Linked DNA regions of Homo sapiens. The protein of the gene in region 5 purifies or fractionates together with the protein of the main gene of each other region. This does not show direct contact. Each region holds a gene or a part of one and is shown on either strand. Other genes may lie near its edges. The genes, in order: ODR4, ZC3H14, ADCY3, GDE1, SLC22A24, SLC25A16 and CYP4X1.

Evidence for each region.
Region 1: the proteins of SLC22A24 (region 5) and ODR4 purify together in Homo sapiens (affinity purification with mass spectrometry; one large-scale study listed by BioGRID and IntAct). This does not show direct contact.
Region 2: the proteins of SLC22A24 (region 5) and ZC3H14 purify together in Homo sapiens (affinity purification with mass spectrometry; one large-scale study listed by BioGRID and IntAct). This does not show direct contact.
Region 3: the proteins of SLC22A24 (region 5) and ADCY3 purify together in Homo sapiens (affinity purification with mass spectrometry; one large-scale study listed by BioGRID and IntAct). This does not show direct contact.
Region 4: the proteins of SLC22A24 (region 5) and GDE1 purify together in Homo sapiens (affinity purification with mass spectrometry; one large-scale study listed by BioGRID and IntAct). This does not show direct contact.
Region 6: the proteins of SLC22A24 (region 5) and SLC25A16 purify together in Homo sapiens (affinity purification with mass spectrometry; one large-scale study listed by BioGRID and IntAct). This does not show direct contact.
Region 7: the proteins of SLC22A24 (region 5) and CYP4X1 purify together in Homo sapiens (affinity purification with mass spectrometry; one large-scale study listed by BioGRID and IntAct). This does not show direct contact.

What each region holds. Positions count from the first base shown.
Region 1 is NC_000001.11:186,396,338-186,399,837, reverse strand, and holds part of ODR4 (protein odr-4 homolog), read right to left. Parts: intron 1,540-3,500; coding exon of another isoform or gene 1,526-1,539; coding exon 1,397-1,525; intron 885-1,396; coding exon 794-884; intron 1-793. UniProt on the Homo sapiens protein: May play a role in the trafficking of a subset of G-protein coupled receptors.
Region 2 is NC_000014.9:88,576,537-88,580,036, forward strand, and holds part of ZC3H14 (zinc finger CCCH domain-containing protein 14), read left to right. Parts: intron 1-1,448; coding exon 1,449-1,604; intron 1,605-3,500. UniProt on the Homo sapiens protein: RNA-binding protein involved in the biogenesis of circular RNAs (circRNAs), which are produced by back-splicing circularization of pre-mRNAs.
Region 3 is NC_000002.12:24,822,738-24,826,237, forward strand, and holds part of ADCY3 (adenylate cyclase type 3), read right to left. Parts: intron 3,393-3,500; coding exon of another isoform or gene 3,390-3,392; coding exon 3,308-3,389; intron 1,800-3,307; coding exon 1,641-1,799; intron 619-1,640; coding exon 472-618; intron 1-471.
Region 4 is NC_000016.10:19,512,099-19,515,598, forward strand, and holds part of GDE1 (glycerophosphodiester phosphodiesterase 1), read right to left. Parts: intron 1-3,500. UniProt on the Homo sapiens protein: Hydrolyzes the phosphodiester bond of glycerophosphodiesters such as glycerophosphoinositol (GroPIns) and glycerophosphoethanolamine (GroPEth), to yield a glycerol phosphate and an alcohol.
Region 5 is NC_000011.10:63,141,422-63,145,542, reverse strand, and holds the start of SLC22A24 (steroid transmembrane transporter SLC22A24), read left to right. Parts: upstream 1-1,321; 5' UTR 1,322-1,763; coding exon 1,764-2,165; intron 2,166-4,121. UniProt on the Homo sapiens protein: Renal transmembrane organic anion/dicarboxylate exchanger that participates in the reabsorption of conjugated steroids including estradiol-17beta-D-glucuronide (or 17beta-estradiol 17-O-(beta-D-glucuronate)), androstanediol glucuronide (or 5alpha-androstane-3alpha,17beta-diol 3-O-(beta-D-glucuronate)), and estrone 3-sulfate, as well as bile acids taurocholate and glycocholate, driven by an outward gradient of dicarboxylates such as glutarate or succinate.
Region 6 is NC_000010.11:68,503,524-68,507,023, reverse strand, and holds part of SLC25A16 (solute carrier family 25 member 16), read left to right. Parts: intron 1-305; coding exon 306-439; intron 440-3,328; coding exon 3,329-3,392; intron 3,393-3,500. UniProt on the Homo sapiens protein: May be involved in the transport of coenzyme A in the mitochondrial matrix. Very little is known about the physiological function of this carrier.
Region 7 is NC_000001.11:47,037,169-47,040,668, forward strand, and holds part of CYP4X1 (cytochrome P450 4X1), read left to right. Parts: intron 1-1,491; coding exon 1,492-1,598; intron 1,599-2,173; coding exon 2,174-2,364; intron 2,365-3,500. UniProt on the Homo sapiens protein: A cytochrome P450 monooxygenase that selectively catalyzes the epoxidation of the last double bond of the arachidonoyl moiety of anandamide, potentially modulating endocannabinoid signaling.

The DNA.
Region 1 (3,500 bases), on a different chromosome or scaffold from region 5:
AAGATACTGTAACTCAGCCTTTTTTAAACGTAATGAAGTCTGTTAGAGTAATAGCTGAGAAGCATATAAACTAGTGTAGTTTATATAAATAGTACCTACTAAAGGAGCTATTATATAGTATTTAACACTAATAATATTTTGATTATGGCTAAATTATTTAAAATACTCATAGATATCAACAAAAAATACTAACTTTAAAATGTTAACAAAGTTTACTCATTCTGGCAGGAGAAGTTCACTTGGAATTAATTTTTTTAAAAATCCTCCCTGAAATTCTTAATTGTTGACAAATTTGCTAAATTTGATAGTGTTCTAAAACGTTTTTCTAGAGCCAAGCATGGTGGCTCACACCTGTAATCCCAGCACTTCGGGAAGCCAAAGACAGTGGATCACTTGAGTTCAGGAGTTTGAAACTAGCCTGGGCAACATGGCAAAACCCTGTCTCTAAAAAAACAATACCAAAAATTAGCAAGGCATCATGGCATGTGCCTGCAGGCCCACCTACTAGGGAGGCTGAGGTAGGAGGACTGCTTGAGCCCAAGAGGCTGAGGCTGCAGGTGAGCCATGACTGTGCCACTGCACCCCAGCCTGGGCAACACAGTGAGACTCTGTCTAAAAAAAAAAAAAAAAATCTGAGTAGCAACTGAAAAATTTTCATCCAATAATAAAAGATGATATACTGCTTGAAAATATAGATAGGTAGCTATAAAAGATGACGTATCTGCTATATCTTGATATCTTATTACTATATCAGTTGAAGATACGCAAAAAAGTACTTATTTTATACTCATAACTTTTTTTTCTGGAATTTCATTCAAAAGCAGATCCTCAAATAGCATTTCACAACGATCAGCAACTGTGTTCAATATATCCCTCTTTACTGCCTACAGGGAAAAACACACAAAAAACACAGTAAGAAATAAAATACTTTAGATTTACAATATTTAACTAACAAAAAAAATAATTTGCTTTCCAGTACAATCATGCCCACTAAATAACTGATACATCATTCAATGTTTTATTTCCACTTATTTAGCACACTTATTAACAAATTTATAGTTTAATGATAAATTTATCTAAATAGTTAAAAACAGATAAATGAATAAAATTTCACATCTAAAAAAATAATTGCAGTGTTCCAAATTAGATACTAATATGTATAACAGTGGAACACTTACTAAACTTGTATAGCCATCATTTTTAAAAAGGCACAAAATAGATACTCTACATATGAAAATCTTCACACCAATTATATGGTACATTTGGACTGCACAATAGGCCATTATCAGTTAAAATCGAATTAATAATTACAAAATATAAGATTAAAAAATGGTAAAATTTTAGGTTTTTGTTAATAGTTAACATGGTTCCATATGCTCGTTATTCCTTTTTGTACCTGCACAGCATCTTTAACTTTGGGTTTACTGCTGTGGATATAAGCTCTGCATTTCACAGCACCCTTAAGGTTTACAGAACCGCTACATATCTGGACTGTGGCTGTGGATCTGTGGTCTGAATTCAGGAGCTGAAAGACAAAATCTGTTTAAGTTCTAATAACCAACAATGATTAACTACAGGAAATATTTAAACATTATATTAGCGATTTTATGAAGAGAGAACAAAGTTTTGACTGAGCCAAGCATTTGAAATTATTCTCTGCAAATTATTTAAAGGCCTTCATATTTGTTTTTATAAGTTATATATTATTTTCCAGTCATTTTGAAGATATAATGAAATTAAACACAACTACATCTAAATTTTTCTAACATAACCATCTAAAATGGTTCAATATTCACTCGATATGCTCCTAAAAATATATTATTTGCAAATTATTCACATCAGTACTGTGATGATTAAAAGATATACAAAGAAGATATGATGTACTAGATATAAGTTGTGCAATGCAAAATAAGTTCACAATAACAAATACAAAGTGGGATGTGATAACTATGGTAAAACTACAAGCAATGCACAGACACATATATTTACACACTTTCAACCAAAAACTTTCATAGACTAGTCCCATCCTCTTTAGTCTAAGGAATGCCAGTGCTCTTGTTCGGTTTTCAGGTGTTTCACATATATTTTCAACCCCATCATCTTAATAAGTGCCAAAAACAAGGACAGTATCAAAATAGTTAAAGTACTACAGGTTGAGCATCCCTAATCTAAAAATCCTGAATGCTCCAAAATCCAAAACTTATTGAGCACCAATGTGATGTTCAAAGGAAAAGGTAATTGGAGCATATAAGATTTTAGATTTTTGGCTTAGAGATGCTCAACTGGTATGTATTCTGCAAATATTACAAAATCTAAAAAAAATCCCAAACCCAAAACACTTCTGGTCCTAAGCATTTCAAATAAGGCACACTCAACCTGTAATAGAGGCCTATAATAACAGTGGAAACAAAAAATAATGATTTACAAAAAATAACCAAAAAATGGAAATGGTAAGGAAGTAATTTATGTTCTAAGAACACTTGGAGTATAAGTCATTCAACAACCAAATCAATTCTGAAGAACAAAAGTCAAATCATACAACTTGTGAAAAGTGCTTTGTGCCTATGTGCTTATGCAATCAGGAATAAATGCGGAAAAATAATGAAGAGGAGAATACTGACATGCATAGCTATTGAAAGAGCATTATTGATGTCTAGTGTAATTCAAGCAATGTCTAAGGCAATGTAAATCTTCTAGGTGTTGTTAAACAATTTAAACTTTAAGATGGTCAAGGACTTGTTGACAAAAAATTTGCCACAGACCACACAGCTCCAAAGGTCCTGGGTCCATTCAAAAATGGCTATCATCAAACCAAGCAGCAGTGTGACGATGCTGATACAATGTCTGGAATAAGCTTCCATATGACACATGTAGAGTTCATTGATACATCAATAAGGTGGGGTTGGAGGAGGAGTAACAGGCTTCCCCTATCTACTCCATAACTTTTTATTGTAGACAAAACTACTCTAAAAAGAATGTCCTATTTTACATATTTAACATATAATTTATATATTTTTAACATATAACACATTTATATATTAGTATATGTAAATATATGTGTATGTGTGTATATACATATATCTATCTATCTATCTATCTATCTATCTATCTATCTATAATTATGGCATTGTTATCCAAAACAGACTAGACTATTAAAGACTATACACACACATATTAAAGAAAAGAGGTATTTTTTTGGTTGGTTGGTTAGTTTTATTTTGTTTTGTTTGAGGCAGGGTCTTGTTCTGTCATCCAGCCTAGAGTACAGTGATGCTATCAGAGCTCACTGCAGCCTCAAGCTCCTAGGCTCAATCGATCCTCCCACCTTCGCCTCCCAAGTAGCTGGGACTACAGGCACACACCATCACCCCCAGCTAATTTTTGTATTTTTTTGTAGAGACAGGGTTTCACTTGTTGCTCAGACTCATCTTGAACTCCTAGGCTCAAGCGATCACCCTGCCTAGGCCTCCCAAAGTGCTGGGATTACAGGCATGAGCTAC
Region 2 (3,500 bases), on a different chromosome or scaffold from region 5:
AGCTGATTCTGAAATGCAAACAACTGATGGGTGTCATTTTGTGTTGTCAAATTCTGTACTCTCTGGCCGACCTGTTGTAGCCAATGTGTAAACTTGTGTTAAGAAGCTGATGGTAATGAGCTACTCTAAAAAGATTTAAGTTTTGCTGTGGATTTGGTGGGTGTACTTACAGCATTGCCCTGCTTATCCACTCTCTCGCTTTTTTTTGTGACCCCCCTTCCTAAAATGAGGTAAACTGTAGCCATCAGTTTTTTTATTTGTTTTCTTTTTTTGAGGCGAAGTCTTGCTCTGTTGCCCAGGCTGGAGTGCAGTGGTGTGATCTTGGCTTACTGCAATCTCTGCCTCCTGGGTCCAAGCGATTCTCCTGCCTCAGCCTCCCAAGTAGCTGGGATTACAGGCGCCCACTACCATGCCAGGCTAATTTTTTTGTATTTTTAGTAGAGGCGGGGTTCCACCATGTTGGCCAGGCTGGTCTCGTACTCCTGACCTCAGGTGATCACCTGCCTCCTCGGCCTCCCAAAATGCTGGGATTACAAGCGTGAGCCACCGCGCCTGGCACCATCAGTTTTTGATCCTGATACTTGTCTGTCCTCTTGGTTCTCCTCATCCCTAATTTAACCTTGAACACAAAATTCAACAGGTTTTGGCATATAGAATAAAGATTATCAGGCAAAGGCGCACTCTTGACCTAATGATATATCTACATTTCATTTCCTGATCTATCAGCAATATTAATTGTCTAGAATGATGAGAAGTTTAGAGAAGTTCCATGACTTTGAAATTTTCTTTCTTTACCTAGGTTATCTAAATTACAATTTGAAACTCATATAAGATCATGAAGCTAAGCTTAAATAAACCGCATTTTGTTGAAAATGAATACATATGTACTATATTGTATTCATGGTATGTGGTTGTATGGATATTGTTTACATATGTTTGGATAAATAGGTTCAGGTATCTATCTCAGTAACGTAAGAAAAAATGAATGGTATCTATGGATTGAACTCCTCATATATATGTTCTTTTCTTTTCTTTTTCTTTTTTTTTTGGAGACAGAGTCTCACTCTGTTGCCCAGGCTGGAGTGCACAGTGGTGCAATCTCGGCTCACTGCAACCTCCGCCTTCCGGGTTTAAGCAATTCTCCTGCCTCAGCCTCCTGAGTAGTTGGGATTACAGGTGTGTGCCACTATGCCCGGCTAGTGTTTGTATTTTTAGTAGAAACGAGGTTTTACCATGTTGGCCAGGCTGGTCTCAAACTCCTGACCTCAAGTGATCCACCCACCTTGCCTCCCAAAGTGCTGAGATTACAGGCATGAGCCACTGCGCCCAGCCTGAACTCATATGTCCTAAACCAAAGGAGGCATTTATATTTAATATGACATAGTCACTGTGGAGTTTTGACGTATTACTGCATTTGTATTTCTATCTTTTTTGCTTTTATGTGAAAGTTCCACAGAAACAGACACTTCCAGTTGCTCCCAGAACTCGAACTTCTCAAGAAGAATTGCTAGCAGAAGTGGTCCAGGGACAAAGTAGGACCCCCAGAATAAGTCCCCCCATTAAAGAAGAGGAAACAAAAGGAGATTCTGTAGAAAAAAATCAAGGTAATAACTTAAATGATGTTTCACTCTTTACTACAGTTTTTTCATGAGGCATTGAATATTTTCCAATGGATTTTTATGAAATATTACACTATGAAAAAAGTGATGATTAAGCCCAGAAATAGAATGAGAAGAATACCATGAGGAAGGTTCATACCAACACTTCAGAAAAAAATTTTTTTTTTAAAGAGGTAGGGTCTTGCTGTGTTGCCCAGGCAGTCCTCAAACTCCTGGGCTCAAGCAGTCCTCCTGCCTCAGCATCCTTAGTAGCTGGAGGTGTGTACAAGTGTGTGCCACTGCACCCAGCCCTTTCTAGAAATTTTTGAAAGTCTTTTTATTGTGGAAATTTTTAATATTCTCAAAAATGGAAAGGCTAGTACAGTGAACTCTCATGAACCCAGTCATTAAGCCTTAGTTATTATCAGAATTTTGCTGGTCTTTAGATAGCTCCTTCTTAAAGATATATTTATTTCTGCATTCTTTCTTTTTCTCTTTTTGTTGATCCTGCCCGTTTACCTGAACTTGAAATTTTAGTTACCTTTAAATCTCCCGTCTCTTAAGCATCCTGTCTCTGACCTCCCATATGTGTCCCAGCAACCCTAATTTATCCCCTCGTGCCTAACATACTTCAGTTTGCTTCCAGGTTTTTTTTTTTTTTTTTTTTTTTTGCTTTTTTCTCAGCTTTCTCCCCCAATTCCTATACAATCTTTTGACTTTGAAAGTGTGTCTCTCATCTTCTGACTCCTTTGTGAAAGTATCTCTCCCCTCCTCCTCATTACCCAGAACTAACGCTATTAGTTTGGACTTTTGGTGTCTGTTATCTGACCCCTGGGCCTGCACAGCCCTTCTCCATGACTCTTCAGACCTTTTGTCTCTTTTGTCGTCAAGAAGGATTCTTTTTTCTTCTGTTTCTTTTTCTACTAAGATTTGAATTTTAAGACCCCACCAAAAAAATCTATATGCTTATTATGTTATTTCTCACATACTTTTCAAGAACCTTGGAATATATTTTTTCATTTCTTCAAAACTGTCCTTTAAATTGTTCCAGGTTTCATGAAACCTTATGATTTCAGAATTGTCAATTCTGTATTTGTTTCCTCATTGTGTCTCTTTAAAAATTTTTGACTGTATTGTTCAGTTTGCCATGACAGCGTTATATACTATTCTGATAATTGATAGGCCTGAGGACAAGACCTGTTTGGTCCCCAAACAGCAGATAGGTACCAATTGGAAAATGTGAATGGGCCAAATTGAGAAGAGGAGCTGAAACTGAGGAGGGATTTTGCTCAGTGCAGTGGCAGATGAGGCTGATCTAAAAGGACTGCAGTGGTCTACTCCCTGTGGAGTCTGTAGTGTGTTGCACCAAGGTTTTCTTCAAACACAGGACTCTACGTGAGAGTCTTGGAGTGGAATCAGATGGAGCAGGGAAACAGACAATAGAGAAAAGGAAAGAATGTCAGATAAAAATAGGAGAGGAAAACAATAGGAAATCTCAAAGCAAGGTGCCATATTTTTTAACATCACAAAATCAACAGAAGAAGGTTGTTGATTCTGAAGTTAGAATAGCTATCCAAAGCAAACTTTCCCCTAAAATGAACAACAGAAAAGTATCAAGGTCAAGTCCTGTGCCGAATTAAAAGATAAAAGGGAATAAAAGACAAAACAGCATTGTTTCAATGAAAGCATGCTGAAAGGTATACCAAAAAGAAATACAATTTCAAAGTGAGCTAGAAGACATTATTTAAATAATACAAGACAAAGCCAAGAAAAACATAAAACAGAAGAACTTTGAGGCTGGGTGCAGTGGCTCATGCCTGTAATCCCAACACTTTGGGAGGCTGAGGCAGGAGGATCACTTGAGACTAGCCTGGGCAGCATAGCAAAACCCTGTCTCGACAA
Region 3 (3,500 bases), on a different chromosome or scaffold from region 5:
CTTTCCTATCAAAGTTGTTACTTAGTCTACCGCTTATCTGCCACATGATCCTGGGAGAACTTCCTAACTTTCTGGGCCTGTTTCCACAACCTCAACACTGACATAAAATCGGCAGTCTCCTAGGGGGGCTCCGCGCGTGTGTAAAAGCATTCTCCCTGGTATACAGGTCACCCAGTCAATGCTGACCGGCTCTGAATTTGAGGAGACAGTCCCAGGACAGAGAGGTCTCGAGATGTTGCTTGGCCAGTCCTTATCCTTATCCTGTGACCCTGTGGGTGATTTCCCGGGCTCCCACCTCACCTCCCCTTCCCCAGCCCAGCAGTTCCAGGTGGCTGCAGAAGTCCATGTATTGCGGAAGGGGCTTATCTGGGAAAATGAAGCCAGTTTCTCTGGCCTCTGCAGCCTATTGTAGGATGTGATGTGGAATGGGCCGGCTTCATGGCCAGAGTGCAGGGTGGGATGGGCACTCACAGAGTCAAAATCTGAGATGATTTCATTGAGGAAACGCAGACACTCAATACCACCATTGTTGATGCTCTCCTCTGTGTAGAAGTCAGCAAAGTTGGGCAGGGAGGCAAACATGACTCCAATCTCATCATACGTCTGGCTATACAGCTCCTAAAAAGAGGTGCGGACAACGTGCTCAAAGCATGTCCGACTGACTGGATGATGTGTTGGAGAAATGCATCTATCTTCCATGCATGACATGTGCACTCAGCTTTTTGGACTCACACATCAGTCAGATTATTCCAGCATTTTTTTTTTTTTTTTTAAGAGTGGGTCTTGCTGTGTTTCCCAGGCTGGAGTGCAGTGGCAGTAAACAAGCACAATTAGGTATGATCGAAGCACACTGCGGCCTTGAACACCAGGTATCTGGGACCACAGACACATGTCACCATGCCCGGCTGTAGATTATTCCAACTCTGAATAATTTAAAAATAGCTCATCGCTACTTTTTTTTTTTTTTTTTGAGAGATGGAGTCTTGCTGTGTCACCCAGGCTGGAGTTGAGTGGCACAATCTCAGCTCACTGCAACCTCCACCTCCCGGGTTCAAGTGAGTCTCCTGTCTCAGTTTCCCGAGTAGCTGGGACGACAGGTGTGCACCACCGCGTCCAGTTAATTTTTGTATTTTTTAGTAGAGACAGGGTTTCACTATTTGTTGCCCAGGCTGGTCTCAAACTCCTGACCTCAGATGATCCACCCGCCTCGGCCTCCCAAAGTGCCGGGATTACAGGCATGAGCCACTGTGCCCGGCCACTACTTTGAATAAATTTTAAAACAGCTTCTCTAGTTCCTCTAACAGCCCCAGCTGTGAAGACGAGGGTACCGTAGAGCTGGGAACCACTCTGTTTGGAGAAGTTCACAGGCAACAGAAAGGTGGGCTCTAGCCAAAGTCTTGTCTTCTGACACATGGCCTCAGAGCTGTACGGCCCACATCACGATGCCTACAGCAGTGCACTTTATAAGAGGCCGGAGAAATTCCTCTTTTGCTTATTTGTGTTTGCTGTTTAGGTTCAGCCCTACCTAGGCCCCAGTCCCCTGTCCCTGAGAAGGCCTGGGCCCAGCGGGGGCTGCCTGAAAGAAAGAACAGATGGAGACAAATGGCCTCATGGTTCCGGGCTGAGACCACACCCCTCACCTCATCTCTCTTCTTGGACCCCAGGAAATGGCGTGCCACGTGCTCAGGCAACATGTTGGTGACCAAGGCCTCGTTCCAGCGTCGCATCTCATAGACACGTTCCTTCTGGTCGTGGACCTCAATCTTCCACAAGAAAAGTGTCCGTGCCAGTTTTTCTACCTACAGACACAGACAAGGCGAGGCATGTGCTCTAAGCTGGCCACTGGATAGAAGGATGAAAAACAGGAATGGCCAGGCGTGGCGGTTCATGCCTGTAATCCCAGCACTTTGGGAGGCCGAGGCAGGCGGATCACCTGAGGTCAGGAGTTCGAGACCAGCCTGACCAACATGGTGAAACCCTGTCTCTACTAAAAATACAAAAATTAGCCGGGCATGGTGGCGGGCACCTGTAATCCCAGCTACTCGGGAGGCTGAGGCAGGAGAATCAACTTGAACCCAGGAGGCAGAGGTTGCAGTGAGCCGAGATCGCACCACTGCACTCCAGCCTGGGCAAAAGAGTGAGACTCAGTCTCAAAAAAAGAAGAAAAACAGGAACGTGAATGGAGGAACTCCCCTTGGAAAGGCTGGAAGGAAGATGGCTAAATGGCAAGGGAAGTAAGACCCTGCAAAGATTGCACCTCATCAAAAGGCCACCCAATAGTGGTGCGGTTCCCAGCCTCCGTAATTACAGCAGAGATCCAGGAGGCCTTCCGTGTGTAGGGGGCCTCTTGGGACCTAATTTCAGCTGCAGGTCTGTCTCGTGGAGGTGGCAGCAGTGGGGATCTCCCAACTCAGGGTGGAGTCCCCCTTTCTAGCAGGCGCCATTTGGGTAAGAAGTGGCTTGGGAAGGCTGTACTTCCCTGGAAAGCCAGTAGGGGGCACTTGAACTAACATTGGGCCCTAAGTACAGAGGATCTTTCTCTTCCCTCTCTTCCTTCTCTTTTCCTTTTTTGTCCGGTTGAGTGCGGTGGTTGTGGCGGGGGGGGGGGGGGTGCGGGGGGGGTGTCTCACTTTGTCACCCAGGCTGGAGTGCAGTGGTGTGATCTCAGCTTACTACAGCCTCAACCTCCTAGATTCAAGCAATCCTCCTGCCTCAGCCTCTCAAGTAGCTGGGATTACAGGTGCGGGCCACCATGCCTGGCTAATTTTTGTATTTTTTAGTAGAGACAGGGTTTCACCATATTGCCCAGGCTGGTCTCAGACTCCTGGACTCAAGTGATCCTCCACCCTCAGCCTCCCAAAATGAGCCACTGCACCGGCCTTCTCTTTTCCTTTTAACCCAACAGAAAGTCCATCAGCTCCCTTCTCTTTCTCTTCTGGCTCTGTGGTCAGTTGTGTTAATGTCCCTCAGCGCCACGGGGAGTGCGGGGGCCATGAGCCCCTGGCCTAGGGGATATTGATTTGATTCAAGATGTTTGTGCCTTCACTCTATCCCCTCCCACCTTCACTCCCATGCTTCCTTCACCATCCTGGAGGGGGTCGGACGGAAGAGGTGAGGAACTGTCTTCCTGTGTGACTGAGGAAGGAGCCTGAATAGAGAAGGCGGTGGCCTGACCAGGCTCACGTGTGGGGCTGGGTGAAGGGAAGCCCCATTCCTTAGGAGCTTGGGCTCTTAGGTCCCAGGGCTGCTTCTCAGGAGGCCCTGTGGGCTGTGGGCACAGAGCGGGGATCGTGCAGGCGGCACTCACGTGGCGGGAGAAGTAGTAGAAGCTGAGCATCATGAGGAACACCATCACCGTCATAGAGTACTTGGAAGGCACCAGGGGCAGCCTGCTGGGCAGAGCGTGTGCAACTGAAAGGGCTGTCATCTGCCTCCTGGAGGGGGCCTGATTCCCTCCAACTAGATGGTGCTGCTTCCTGCCACCCCAGCCCTAGAGCTCA
Region 4 (3,500 bases), on a different chromosome or scaffold from region 5:
GGATTGTATGGTAGTTCTATATTTTTAGTTTTTTGAGAAACCTCCATACTGTTTTCCATAATGGCTGTACTAATTTACATTCCCACCAACAGAATATAAGAGTTCCTTTTGCTCTGTATCCTCGCCAGCATCTGTTATTTTAAAAATCTTTTAAATAATGGCCATTCTAACTAGATAAGATGGTACTTCATTGTGGTTTTGATTTGCATTTCCCTAATAATTTGTGGTGTTTTTTCATATGCCTGTTGGCCATTTGTGTGTCCTCTTTTGAAAAATGTTTATTCAAATTAGGATTTGAATAGATGTTTTTAATGGGATTATTATTGTTTTTGCTGTTAAGTTCCTTGTATATTCTGGATATTAGTTACTTGTCTGTTGAATAGTTTGCAAATATTTTCTCCTATTCAACAGGTTTTCTTTTTACTCTGTTGATTATTTCCTTTGCTGTGCAGAAGCTTTTTAGTTTAATATAGTCACATTTGCCTGTTTTTGTTGCCTGTGCTTTTGAGGTCTTAGCCATAAAATCTTTGCCTAGATCAATGTCCCAGAGCTTTTCCCCTGTGTTTTCTTCTAGTAGTTTTATAGTTTCTGGTCTTAAATTTAAACTTTTAATCCATTTTGTGTTGATTTTTTAAATATAGTGAGAGATAGGGGTCTAGTTTCATTATCCTGCATATGGATATCCAGTTTACCCAGTACCAGTTATTGAAGAGAGTTCCTTTCCCCCACTGTAATGTTCTTGGTGCCTTCATGGAAAATCAGTTGGCTGTAAATATATGGATTTATTTCTTGGTTCTCTATTGTATTCCACTGGTCTATGTATCTGTTTTGTGTGTGTGTGTGTGTGTGTGTGTGTGTGTGTGTGTGTGTCAGTATTTATACCAATACCATGCTGTTTTGGTTACTGTGGCTTTGTAGTATATCTTGAAATGAGGTAGTGTGATATGTCCAGCTTTGTCCTTTTTGTTCAGTATTGCTTTAGCTATTTGGGCTTCTTTACGGTTCCATATGAATTTTAGGATTGTTGCTTTTCTATTTCTCTGAAGAATGTCTTTGATATTTTGATAGGGATTGCACTGAATTGTAAATTATTTTGAGTAGAATGGTCACTTTAGGAATATTAATTCTTCTGATCCATGAGCATGGGATGTCTTTCCATTTGTGTCCTCTTAAGTTTTCTCATCAGTGTTTTGTAGTTTTCCTTGTAAGAGCTCTTTCACCTCTTTGGTTATATTTATTCCTAGGTATTTTGTTATTTTTTTTTTGGTAGCTATGTAAATGGGATTACTTTCTTGATTTCTTTTACAGCTAGTTCATTATTTACGTATAGACATGCTACTGATTTTTGTACGTTGATTTTATATCCTGCAATTTTACTAAATTTGTTTATCAGTTTTAACAGTTTTTTGGTGAAGTCTTTAGGTTTTTCTACATACAAAATCATGTTGTCAGCAAAGAGGTACAATCTGACTTCCTCTTTTTCCAATTTGGATGCCTTTTATTTCTTTCTCTTTCCTGATTGCTCTGGCTAGTCAATCATTCCATATTTAGCAAAATTGATATGAAGGTCGAAAGAATCATGGAGGAAGTAATTAACCATATTATCCAGAGTTTGCTGTACTTGGAACTGATAAAACTGAAAGTATCCAGTAAGTACAGACTAAATGTAATCATAAACTTCCCTTTTATTGCATAAGACTTTCAAACATGCTGTGGTTGCTTTTAAACACAAGTAGGTTGGGCTGTAATTGTGTAAGAAGCAACAAGTAAATGGTTTGCACAAGCACTTTTAGAAAGGTTAAGACAACTGGACCACATGGTGGTGCCCAAGACATTTTTAATTCATATCCTGGTGACAAGTGAGCATTGAAAACCCAAGACTCGTAGATGAGAAGAATTGAAGCACACAGACACCTGAGCACAGAGATTAGAGATTGATGGTCTTTGGTTTCTTATATTGTATAATGGATGTTATTTTTCTGTTTTTTGTTTTGTTTTGTTTTGATTTGTTTTCCTTTTCTGGTAATTCTGTGCTTCTGACACTAGCTATAAATTGGGGTTCCCACCTCCTCCTCCTTGGGTTCAATTAATTTGTTAGAGTGGCTTGCGGAACTCAAACACGTTTACAGGTTTATTATAAAGTATGTTACACAGCATACAGATGAAGACATGCATAGGGTGAGGTATGGGGAAAGGGGCATAGAGCTTCCATGCCCTTTCTGAGTGCTCCATCATTCAGGAACCTCCATGTGTTCAAATACAGATATTCTTGACCAAAGACCAGCAACAACAACAAAAATCATTTAATTTTTAAGAAATCACTGAATTTCTATTGAATTAATAACATTATTAATAACCCTACTTCCCAAAGGGCAGAGTATATGCCACCTTTGGAAAACTCAAAGACTTAATTTTCAGATTGTAATTTCCCTAATAGAATGCTATGCAGGAGGAATTCTTAGGAATACATAAATCTGTTAACTGTATTGTGTATTTATTTAAGTGCAACTGTTTAAAATAAATAATGTTCTAAGACATAATTTTCTGATAAAGAAAATGAAAACTAAGTGCTTGATACAAAAGAAATTAGCTTTTCTCTCATAATAAAATTATTATTTAACTTAATGCTAATTCAACTGCATTATTTCAACTGTAAGATCATGCTTTTAAAAAAGGGTAAGGATAGGCCAGGTACAGTGGGCTCATGCCTGTAAATTCAGCACTTTGGGAAGCTGAGGCAGGCAGATCACCTGAGGTCAGGAGTTCGAGACCAGCCTGGCCAACATGGCGAAACCCCGTTTCTACTAAAAATGCAAAAATTAGCTGGGTGTGGTGGCATGTGCCTGTAATCCCAGCATTCTGGAGGCTGAGGCAGGAGAATCACTTGAACCCGGGAGGTGGAGGTTGCAGTGAGCCAAGATCATGCCATTGCACTCCAAACTGGGCAACAAGAGTGAAACTCCAACTCAAAAAAAAAAAAAAAAAAGATAAGGATAATTTAAACATTACAGGCAATTATCCCAGCCATTCTAATCAATTTCTATTCCCTGAGAGTGAAAGATGGGAGACCTGAATTTGTTATTCCTTTGGCTGATCTTAGTTTCCTCCTTATCCTCCTCTCAGGACAAGCATCTCATCACACTGAGCATAATTCTAGAGAAAATATCTATTTTTTCCCACAACATAATCCGTAAACACAAGCCAATTACTTCATTTAGTTTTCAATCATAGAACACACTCTGTTCCAATAGTGGAGCAAAGACTGGTTGTGTTAAAGACACTGAGATAATATGTTGCCTTTGCTGTCTTCTTAAGGGATTTTTTGAAAATCACAATTTTTTTTCCTAGGATGCACAAATTCCAGAGAAATGGACTCAGTGCTCCCTTAAAGGATTTTTAAGGGTAATGATGACCCTAAACATTTTTGCTTTAAGTATTAACTTTGAACCTGACATTTTATTAGCTGCAATGTCATTATAATATTCAAACCAGCCTTTCCC
Region 5 (4,121 bases):
TTTTTTTTTTTTTTTTTTGAGACAGAGTCTTGCTGTGTCACCCAGGCTGGAGTGCAGTGGCACAATCTCAGCTCACTGCAACCTTCACTCCCAGGTTCAAGTGGCTCTCCTGCCTCAGCCTCCTGAGTAGCTGGGATTATGGGTGTGAGCCACTGCACCCATCCAGGAATCTGCATCTTAAGATGTTTCACGGGTGACCAGTTTGAAATTCAAAAATAAGAACTTCTTGTAGGCAGAATAAATTCTGGAGATTCTGTTTGTTTCTTTGGGTTTCTTTTTAATCAACCTGTCTTTTCCCATTATATCCGTGCATGCTATTTAGCTGCTAGCTTTTGAATATCCTTGTAGGTACACAATTATGCCACACCTTTAACTGTAATTGTGTACTTATTATTCCCTCATTTAAAAATTGACTCTTGCAGTCCCTCATCCACTGCTTCATTATCTCAAGAATCTTCCCACAAGAGTAGGTCAAGCTGGCTGGGCATGGTGGCTCATGCCTGTAATCCCAGCACTTTCAGAGGCTGAGGTGGGCAGATCACATGAGGTCAGGAGTTTGAGGCCAGCCTGGCCAATATGATGAAACCCCTTCTCCATAAAAAATACAAAAATTAGCTGGGCATGTGGGTGAATGCCTGTAATCCCAGCTACTTGGGAGGCTGAGACATGAGAATTGATTGAACCCAGGAGGTCAAGGCTGCAGAGAGCCAAGATCCCACCGCTGCACTCCAGCCTGGTGACAGAGTGATACTTTGTCTCAAAAAAAAAAAGAGTAGGTAAAGTTAATTTGTAGAGGGATGACTCCCCTGCTCCATGGCATCTATCCAGGTATCATTAAACAGTTTCTCCTTAATCTTCCATAGCACACTGTGTATCTTCCTTATAGTTATATGATGACATTACAGTACAATTATTTACAAACCTATCATTTATATGAGACATTGAGCTCAAATTTTATTTTAAACTTATAAATAAATATATGTAAGTTAACATTGCTTTATTTACAGCAATAGCACCAGAAAGCCCAAAATGATATTTGAATGAATCAATAAATCTGGTGAAATATACTACTATAATACATAAAAGCACTATTTCCTTTCTCTTTGTTTCTTATCCTAATTTCCCTATTTTAAAAAATCTTTAAAGCCCTGTCATTGGTATGACTTGAACTGAAGCAGAACTACACTTAGCAAAAGTCAATGTTTAAACTCAACATTCCACTTTCCTTTAACTAAGAATAGTTTTTATTAACTTTTAGTAAAACTCAGTCCTAGTCCAAAAAAAGCCCTGCTCTCTGATCTTTGTACAAGAACATCATAAAGCAATTCACTTTGGATTTTCTAATATCCCATTTCTAAGAAGAATGGCAGACTATTGAACAGGTGTATTTTAGGTCACGTGGGGACTGCATCCACCTGAAAATCCACCGTTGACTTATCAGGAAACTCAGAGATCAGGATCTTTCACAGAGTAGTCTTTTAAGAAGATTCAGTTGTCAACAGCTAGCAGTCTCTTTGCCAAATAATTATATCTGTGACTTCTGAAACTATTTGGCTGCCTAAAGTTAAAGGACTTGGGGAAAGTCCTTCCACTGCTCTTCTGCAGTAGTGTCACACCACTCAGTGCAGGGCCCACCAAGAAGAAAGCAGTGTCAGGATCCACATGGCACTATGGTAACTTTGTGAAAGGGGACATTTTCTCCCTCTGAACTTCTCTTCATAAAGTCATTGTGCTTCCTCTTGGGGATCACCTGTTCAGTCTCAATGGGCTTTGATGTGCTCCTGGATCAAGTGGGTGGCATGGGGAGATTCCAGATTTGTCTGATAGCTTTCTTTTGCATCACCAACATCCTACTGTTCCCTAATATTGTGTTGGAGAACTTCACTGCATTCACCCCTAGTCATCGCTGCTGGGTCCCCCTCCTGGACAATGACACTGTGTCTGACAATGATACCGGGACCCTCAGCAAGGATGACCTCCTGAGAATCTCCATCCCACTGGACTCAAACCTGAGGCCACAGAAGTGTCAGCGCTTTATCCATCCCCAGTGGCAGCTCCTTCACCTGAACGGGACCTTCCCCAACACAAATGAGCCAGACACGGAGCCCTGTGTGGATGGCTGGGTGTACGACAGAAGCTCTTTCCTCTCCACCATCGTGACTGAGGTAAGAGGCCCCATGTAAATCTTCTGTTTATATGATTAAAGTGTTTGGAGTTAACACAAAAAAATTGACTTGCTTTATACCTTTAGTCCTTAGATGGGACCTGCAGTCAGCTCATTCTTCATTCCTTTAGCAGGTGGCAGCACCTGATTATCTATTAATACTCTACGATACAGCCAAGTGTATTAGTATTATATTGGTGTAAAAGTAAATTGTGGTATTAGACCATGAATTTTAAATCATTATAACTAGGCTCAAACACATCTTTATTAATCAAAATAGGAACCATTACAATCAACACATTTTTGGCAATGAGAAATAAGTTTGTTAATTCTGTAACATAAATATCCACGCTTTGGGATTTGACAAATTTTTCTGCATTCTGCTGGTTGTGAAAGTGTTTCTCCTACAAAATGTTGTTGAGATACTTAGTTTTGGTTGTTTTTGTTTTTTGCTTTTTGTTTTTTGAGGGAGGCCAGAGTTTTATTACTACTCAAATTAGTCTCCCTGAGCATTCGGGGAGCAGAGTTTTTAAGGATAACTTGGTGGTTGGGGGGCAGCCAGTGAGCCAAGAGTGCTGACTGATCAGGGCTGAAATCATAGGGAGTCAAAGCTGCCTTCTTGTGCTGAGTCACTTCCTAAGTGGGGGTCACAAGATCAGATGAGCCAGTTTATCGATCTGGGTGGTGACAGCTGATCCATCAAGTGCGGGATCTGCAAAATATCTCAAGCACTGATCTTAGGAGCAGTTTAGGGAGGGTCAGAATCTTGTAGCCTCCAGCTGTGTGACTACTAAATGATAATTTCTAATCCTGTGGCTAACGTTAATCTAGTCCCCAGGCAAGAAGGAGGTCTGCTTTGGGAAAGGCTGTCTTTGTTCAAACTATAAACTACAAACTAAGTTTCTCCCAAAGTTAGTTCAGCCTATGCCCAGGAATGCACAAGGACAGCTTGGAGGTCAGAAGCAAGATGGAGTCGGTTAAGTTAGATCTCTTTCACGGTCTCAGTCATAATTTTGCAAAGGCAGTTTCAATCCCTCCCTTTGGGTTTTATAACACCTTAATCTTAAGATGTAGGCTATGAAGACGGGAAAAGGCCATCTATCACTCCAGCTTCTTCCTGCTGACAGGGGACATAATGGGAATGGGAGTGAACCCCAAGGTGAGAAGAGTGGAACTGCTTTGCTACTGAGTGTATTCATGCAGGCCTGGATGGGCTTCCAAGGCTTGTGTGGCAAAAATATTAGTACTCTCATCTATAGTTTTAGTACAGTATTTAAATGAAGAGCATGCTATAAGGTAAATAATGAGTCCTAGGATGAGGAGTACAATTCCCAATTTTAAAAGCAAAGATTGGAAAGCATTTGTCTGGGGCCTTCTAACTCACAAATAATTTAGAATTTAGTCTAACCTGCAGAAAAAAAAACATCAAGAACAGCTAACAAAAGTGTAATATAGTTTTTCTTTTGAAGCATAATTTTTCTCTCTCCAGTCCCTATTTTTATTAAAAACAAATTATGATAGAACTGACTTACAGTTTACAAAACAAACTTTAGTTTCACTGTACTTGGCCTGATTATTTGCATAAAGTGCAGCAAGAATAATTATTTTTCACTTAGGCTTTTTTAATTGGCTTTGATGAAACTCTGTTCCATGAAGAATCTCAGATAAGGCTTTTTAAAAGCCGAGCCCAGCCATGGGTTTGAACCCTCAGATACCTATGAGTTGAACAAAGTCCTCTCCTCAAGATAACTTGGGGTTCCTGGGCCTGTTAGAAAGTGACATTCTTTACTTAACACAGGTCAGGAACCTTGTACAGGGACTCTGTCTGGACAAGGTATGAGGCCAGATTCCCCAGTGGGTTTTAATTGGTTCCATAAGTCAACTTTGATTCTTTACAAGAAGCATGCCATTCCAGTCAAAGCCTTGGAAAAATGACCAGTTTCTCCAATTGTATCCT
Region 6 (3,500 bases), on a different chromosome or scaffold from region 5:
TGTTAATATTTTTTAGATTGCTATAGTTTAATATAATTTGCTATTATTATAAATAGAATTTGCTGTAATTTGTAGTTGTTTCTACAGTAGGTTTTATATTATATGGGGTGTGCTTATTTATATTATTTGGATATATGATGCATTTTTAGTAGGTTTAACTGTTTTATAGAAATTACTATTCATGTAATCCCTCAAGCAAAATTATATCTTGAGTGATGGCACATTAATCTTTATCTGTGATTGTCATGAAAATTTAGGTTTAGATAATTTTCTCTGTTTTAACAGCATTTTTCCTCTAAAAATAGGAGTATTTTCTGCATTGCGTGCTGTTCCTCAAAAAGAAGGATTCCTTGGATTGTATAAAGGAAATGGTGCAATGATGATTCGAATCTTTCCCTATGGTGCAATCCAGTTTATGGCATTTGAGCATTATAAAACGGTAGTTAAACTTTGATCTTTTCTCTTTTGCGTTCTTGAATATCATGCATGCTTGACCAGGCATTTGCTTTGGACATTTAAAAATATGTAAAAGTTTCATATTTTTAAAAAGTTAAATTATTGGTTTTTTTTTTTTAATTTTTGAGACAGAGTCTCGCTGCCCAGGCTGGGGTACAGTGGCACGATTTTGAAAGGCTCACTGCAACCTCGCCTCCTGGGTTCAAGCGATTCTCCTGCCTCAGCCTCCTGAGTAGCTGGGATTACAGGCCTATGCCACCATGCCTGGCTAATTTTTGTATGTTTAGTAGAGACAGCGTTTTGCCATTTTGGCCAGGCTTGTCTCAAACTCCTGGCCTCCCAAAGTGTTGGGATTGCAGGCATGAGCCATGGTACCAGGCCAAAAAGTTACTTTTGATATAGCAATGCCTTTTTAAAGGAATAAGACTTGTGACAGCTTAAGATTTTAAATATAACTTGTCTTTGGAATTACCGATTCCAGAATTGTTAGTCATTTATGAGTTATTTATTTATTTATTTATTTAATTTTATTTTTTGAGATGGAGTCTCACTCTGTTGCCCAGGCTGGAGTGCAGTGGTGCACTCTTGGCTCACTGCCACCTCCATCTCCTGGGTTCAAGCAGTTCTTTGCCTCAGCCTCCTGAGTAGCTGGAATTACAGGCGCCCGCCACCACACCCAGCTAATTTTTGTATTTTTAGTAGAGATGGGGTTTCACCATCTTGGCCAGGCTGGTCCTGAACTCCTGACCGCGTGATCCACCCGCCTCCGTCTCCCAAAATGCTGGGATTACAGGCTTGAGCCACCGTGCCCGGCCTTTATTTATTTATTTTTTCAGACGGAGTTTCACTTTTGTTCCCTAGGCTGGAGTGCAATGACATGATCTTGGCTCACTGCAATCTCTGCCTCCCAGATTCTTACAGGCATGCACCACCATTCCTGGCTAATTTTGTATTTTTAGTAGAGGCGGGGTTTCACCATGTTGGTCAGGCTGGTCTGGAACTCCTGATTCAGGTGATCTGCCCACCTTGGCCTCCCAAATTCTTGGGATTACAGGCATAGCCACTGCACCCGGCCAAGTAAATTCTTTATGTTCACTCCTAATGAATGAGAGCTAGAATATCTTTAAAGAAGATAATAATAAATCCATATAATATTAATATATTTTTAATGTGTTTCCCTTCCCTCCTTCCCTCCCTCTTTTCTTTTCTTTTCTTTCTTTTTTGAGATAGTTTCTCTGTCACCTAGGCTGGAGTGCAGTGATGTGGTCCTGGCTTACTGCAGCCTCAACCTCACGGACTCAAGCAATTCTCCCACTTCAGCCTCCTGAGTAACTGGCACTAGAGGCATGTGCCACCACCCCCGGCTAATTTGTTTTTTCTTTCTTTTTCAGAGGTGGAGAAGAGGCCTGGCTGATTTTTTAAAAAATATTTTGTAGAGATGGGGTCTCACTGTGTTGCCCATGCTAGTCTCGAACTCCTGGGCCCAAGCTATCTGTGGGCCCCAGCCTTTAGTGTGCTTTTTGTTACTCAATTGTAGGAGAGGAACACTGTGACTTTGGATTTTCTTATTAAACAAAATAGTGAAACTGGCTGGGCACAGTGGCTCATGCTTGTAATCACAGCACTTTGGGAGGCCGAGGTGGGAGTATCAGCTGAGGTCGGAAGTTTGAGACCAGCCTGACCAACATGGAGAGACCCCTTCTCTACTAAAAATACAAAATTAGCTGGATGTGGTGGCGCATGCCTATAATCCCAGCTACTCAGGAGGCTGAGGCAGGATAATCGCTTGAACCCGGGATACGGAGGTTGCAGTGAGCCAAGATCGTGCCATTGCACTCCAGCCTGGGTGACAGAGTGAGACTCCGAATCAAAACAAAAAACAAAAAACAAGGCCGGGTGCGGTGGCTCATGCCTGTAATCCCCAGCACTTTGGGATGCCGAGGCGGGCGGATCACAAGTTCAGGAGATCGAGACCATCCTGGCTAACATGGTGAAACCCAGCTACTCAGGAGGCTGAGGCAGGAGAATGGTGTGAACCCAGGAGGCGGAGCTTGCAGTGAGCCGAGATCGCACCACTGCACTCCAGCCTGGGCGACAGAGCCAGACTCTGTCTCAAAAAAAAAAACAAAAAAAACACAAGCAGCAGAGATCGGAACAACATTCTAAGCTAGTCAGCCAAAGAGAATTGATGCCATTTGTGTATCAGGACTTCATTGTCTATAGAGCATTTAAAAAATAAAATAAAAAATTAGGCTGGGTGCGGTGGCTTCAGCCTATAATCCCAGCACTTTGAGAGGCCGAGGTGGGTGGATCACCTGAGGTCAGGAGTTCGAGACCAGCCTGACCAATGTGGTGAAACCCCGTCTCTACTAAAAAATAAAAAATTAGCCGGGCGTAATGGCACACGGCTGTAGTCCCAGCTACTTGGGAGGCCGAGGCAGGAGAATCGCTTGAATCTAGGTTGCAGTGAGCCGAGATCGTGCCACTGCAATCCAGCCTGGGACACAGAGCGAGACTTCATCTCAAAAAAAAAAAAAAAAAAAAAAAAAAGTAGCAGTTTATTCCTACTACCCCCAGTCACTTGTTAAGGGCTTGTGTTCCTTAATACACAGTATCATATACTTAGCAATACTAAGCTAGCTTGCTTCTGCAGAAATGCAAAAAATTAAAGCAGAGACTACAGAGGAAATATCCCCTTCTGCTGTGATATAACACTGCCAAGCTGTATTTAATTGTGCTCATTTCGTTCACATTTATTATTAATTTCCTTTTTATTAGTCCTGTAACTCTTGAAATAAATCTTCATTATTAAACAGTGAAATGGGCAGCATTTAAAAAATATCTCATTTAATTCAGTGTTCTTGTTTTCTAGTTAATTACTACGAAGCTGGGAATTTCAGGTCATGTGCACAGATTAATGGCTGGATCCATGGCAGGTAAGAGGAGTTAGGTATATTTTATTTCTGACAAATTAATTTTCTATTAAAATATTTAATTTGGTTTAGATTATATGAGTGCCATTGGGGAAAGCACAGGTTGCAGGT
Region 7 (3,500 bases), on a different chromosome or scaffold from region 5:
TCTTTACTTTTTAAATATTATACAATTATGATGAAAAAGCAAAATGCAAAGTGTTAGGGAAAATATTAAATGTTAAATTTATTCAAAACTTAAAACCTTTTCAATTTTTTTTTTTTTTTTTTTTTGAGATGGAGTCTCTATCACTCAGGCTGGAGCGCAGTGGTGTGATCTCAGCTCACTACAACCTCCACCTCCCAGGTTCAGGCAATTCTCCTACCTCAGCCTTCTGAGTAGCTGGGATTACAGGCACTGCCACCACACCTGGCTAATTTTTTTAAATTGTTTATTTTTATTTAGTCAAATATATCAATATTTTATTTTATTGCATCTGGATTTTTAGTAATCACAAAAAGCCATTCTCTATTCCAGGGTTTCTCAACCCTCAGCACTAATGGCTTCTTAGATTAGATAAGTCCTTGTTGTCAAGATGTGTGCATTGTAGGATGTTTAGCTACATCCCTGACATCTACCCACTCGATGTAGTAGAGCTCTGATAGTTATAGCAACCATAAATAACTCCAGACATTATTGAATGTTCCCAGGGCCCCCAGTTGAGAACCACTGCCCTGTACCCAGGTTGTAGAGAAAATTATTTATGTTTTCTTGTAGTACTTGTATAATTTCATTATTTTCATATTTAAATCAGAGATCTAAACTCCATTTAGAATTTATTCCTATATATGGTGTGAGGTATTGATCTAATTTTTCCAAATGTTTATCCAGTTGTCCCATCACCATTATTTAAAAGTTTATCTTTTCAAGTGATTTGAGATAACCATCACATTCTAAACGGATACATGTACTGGTATCTGTTTTGGATAAGAGTATATTTGGATGTTCTCGTGTATTCCATTGATCTATCTACCAATGTACCAGAATCACACTGTTTTAATTAAGGAGATTTTGTGGCTTTTTTCAACATTAATAGACCTTATTTTTAGAAAAGTTTTAGGTTTGCAGAAAAATTCAGCAGAAAGTACAGAGAGTTCTCATATTACCCATGTAACAAACCTGTACATGTACCCCTGTATCTAAAATAAAAGTTGAAATTTTTTAAATAGTAAATAAATATTACCTCTGTTCCATATTTTTGTTTTGTTTTTTTTCTCTCAGCTCCTTCAATTATAAATATATTGGCATTTCTTTGCCTGTCTTCTATTTCATTCCATTTTATTTAATAACTTTTCCGTGAAGATAAAATATTAGACTGAGGAAGAAAAGAATAATTGGTCACTTGCATCTAAACTTGAAATCATCTTAATTTTATTGCCCACATACTGATGGAAACTATGTTTTTTATTTGTGTTGTTTATCTTTGGAGCTTTAATCAAAAGTCCCTTTGATGAGAAAATAAACCATCTGTGAAAATTAGATCTATTTAAACGTCTGGAAATCAGGCAAGATTTGAAGCTATTCACTAACCATGGCTTGCTTTATAATTTATTTGACTTTGCCATCACTTTGGTAATTGGAAACTATTTTTCTACCCAGATACAATAATCCAGGAAAGAAAGAAATCCCTCCAGGCTGGGGTAAAGCAGGATAACACTCCGAAGAGGAAGTACCAGGATTTTCTGGATATTGTCCTTTCTGCCAAGGTAAATCTTCTAAATTTCTAAGCCTGCTCAAGTGACCAGTTAATTATGTAAGTAGGTGGGTAAGTGGGAATGGGATGGGGAGACAAGAATAAAACCGATTGACTAAATTTAACTGTACTTTGAATTGATGAGCAGCTTCATGCAATTTGAGACAAAGAGAGAATTCTGCAACTGTGTCGCTAGAGGAGGGTTAGTAAAGACTAAACGAACGATTTGACAAGATTTGAGGATTGTCATATGGATACATGGATTTTAGGGCATCATGAAAAAATGGTCACATGGATAAACGTAAAAATTATGATGATAAGGTCCTGGGAAATCTGGGAGTTTGAAGAGAATTTCTAGGGCCTGTTGATTGAGGGCCCTTTGTGCAAGGCCTGCTTTTCTTATCTAACCTTGGTTCTCCTTTATGCTTTGGGCAGAATATGGTTTATACCACATATTTGTTGAACTGAATTAAAATTTAAACCCCTATTTAAAGCTCTGATTTTTCCCCTCAAATCATTATTGTGGTTGTATCTCCAAACATTTATAAACTGGCATTTTATTTAAAATATTTGTATTGTACTTTCTAGGATGAAAGTGGTAGCAGCTTCTCAGATATTGATGTACACTCTGAAGTGAGCACATTCCTGTTGGCAGGACATGACACCTTGGCAGCAAGCATCTCCTGGATCCTTTACTGCCTGGCTCTGAACCCTGAGCATCAAGAGAGATGCCGGGAGGAGGTCAGGGGCATCCTGGGGGATGGGTCTTCTATCACTTGGTAAGATCTGCACCCCTAAATTTTCCTGCTAGTTTTCCCCCTGAGATTTTGCTTTATTTTTTGCGCTGGTACCTTAGTGACCCTAGTGCCTCAGGATATGTGTAGGTGAAACAGAAGAAGTAGGCTACTTTTCTGTTCTTTCTAAAGAGAGCTCCAAATTATTCTCTTGTCTTTCAGGAAAAAAAAAAAAAGTTTATTTATCCATAAATTGTCTGTCATTGGTTTTCTAATCAATGGTGTGTGAAATGTCTTATTTCTTTATTTCACCTTGGCTCTGATGCATTGGAAATGAGGACTTGATCCCTGGGCTGGCACTTAGAACTTAAACAATAGGGTCCAAGTGGAGCTCCTCTTCTGAGAGAGCTGAATGATTAGCTGCATTATTTAAGGCTCATTTTAGACATCTCCCAGCCGCTTGTCACCAATTTTATTCCTCAGGATTGATTTTAGACTTCAGACATAATATTCGATGATATATACTATAGTTAAGTTTAGCAAATATGGACTGAGGACATTTTAAATACTGAGACTTTTTTTATGACTACAATTTATTGTGGGCCCTGTCTTCGGTGAGCTAATGGTCTAATACAGGAGACAGGAGACAGACCTCCAAATTGCAGTGTAGCATAATGAGGGCAATGATAGAGATATGTGCTGGCTAACACAAAGACATAGAAGACAGGTACCTACCCTGGCATGGGAGCTCAAGGAGACTTCCTTGACATTTACGCTGACTGCAGGATAAGTAGGAGTTAGCCAGGTGGAAACTGTCATCTCTATCTTGCTAGACTTTAAGCATATACTGCTGTTAATAAAGCCCAGGTTATGCTGTTTGCAAAGATAAAATGTGTTCCTGACATAATCTGGTCAAAGGGACAGAAAGACAGAAATGCTAAGGACAATTCAGCAGCATGACCAGATAAAAAACACCATATTTCATATGCAAAAGTCAACTCAATTGAAACATTTGTAAAACCAAATTTGACATTATAAAAGTATATCAGAGATCTCATTTTATAAGGAAATAGAAGCCCTTTCCTACCATAAACTAAAGATTTAATCTATATAGCACAAAATACAATGTTGAGTAATCATTTTTAATTTATTTTTTAACTGACAAAAATTGTGCATATACA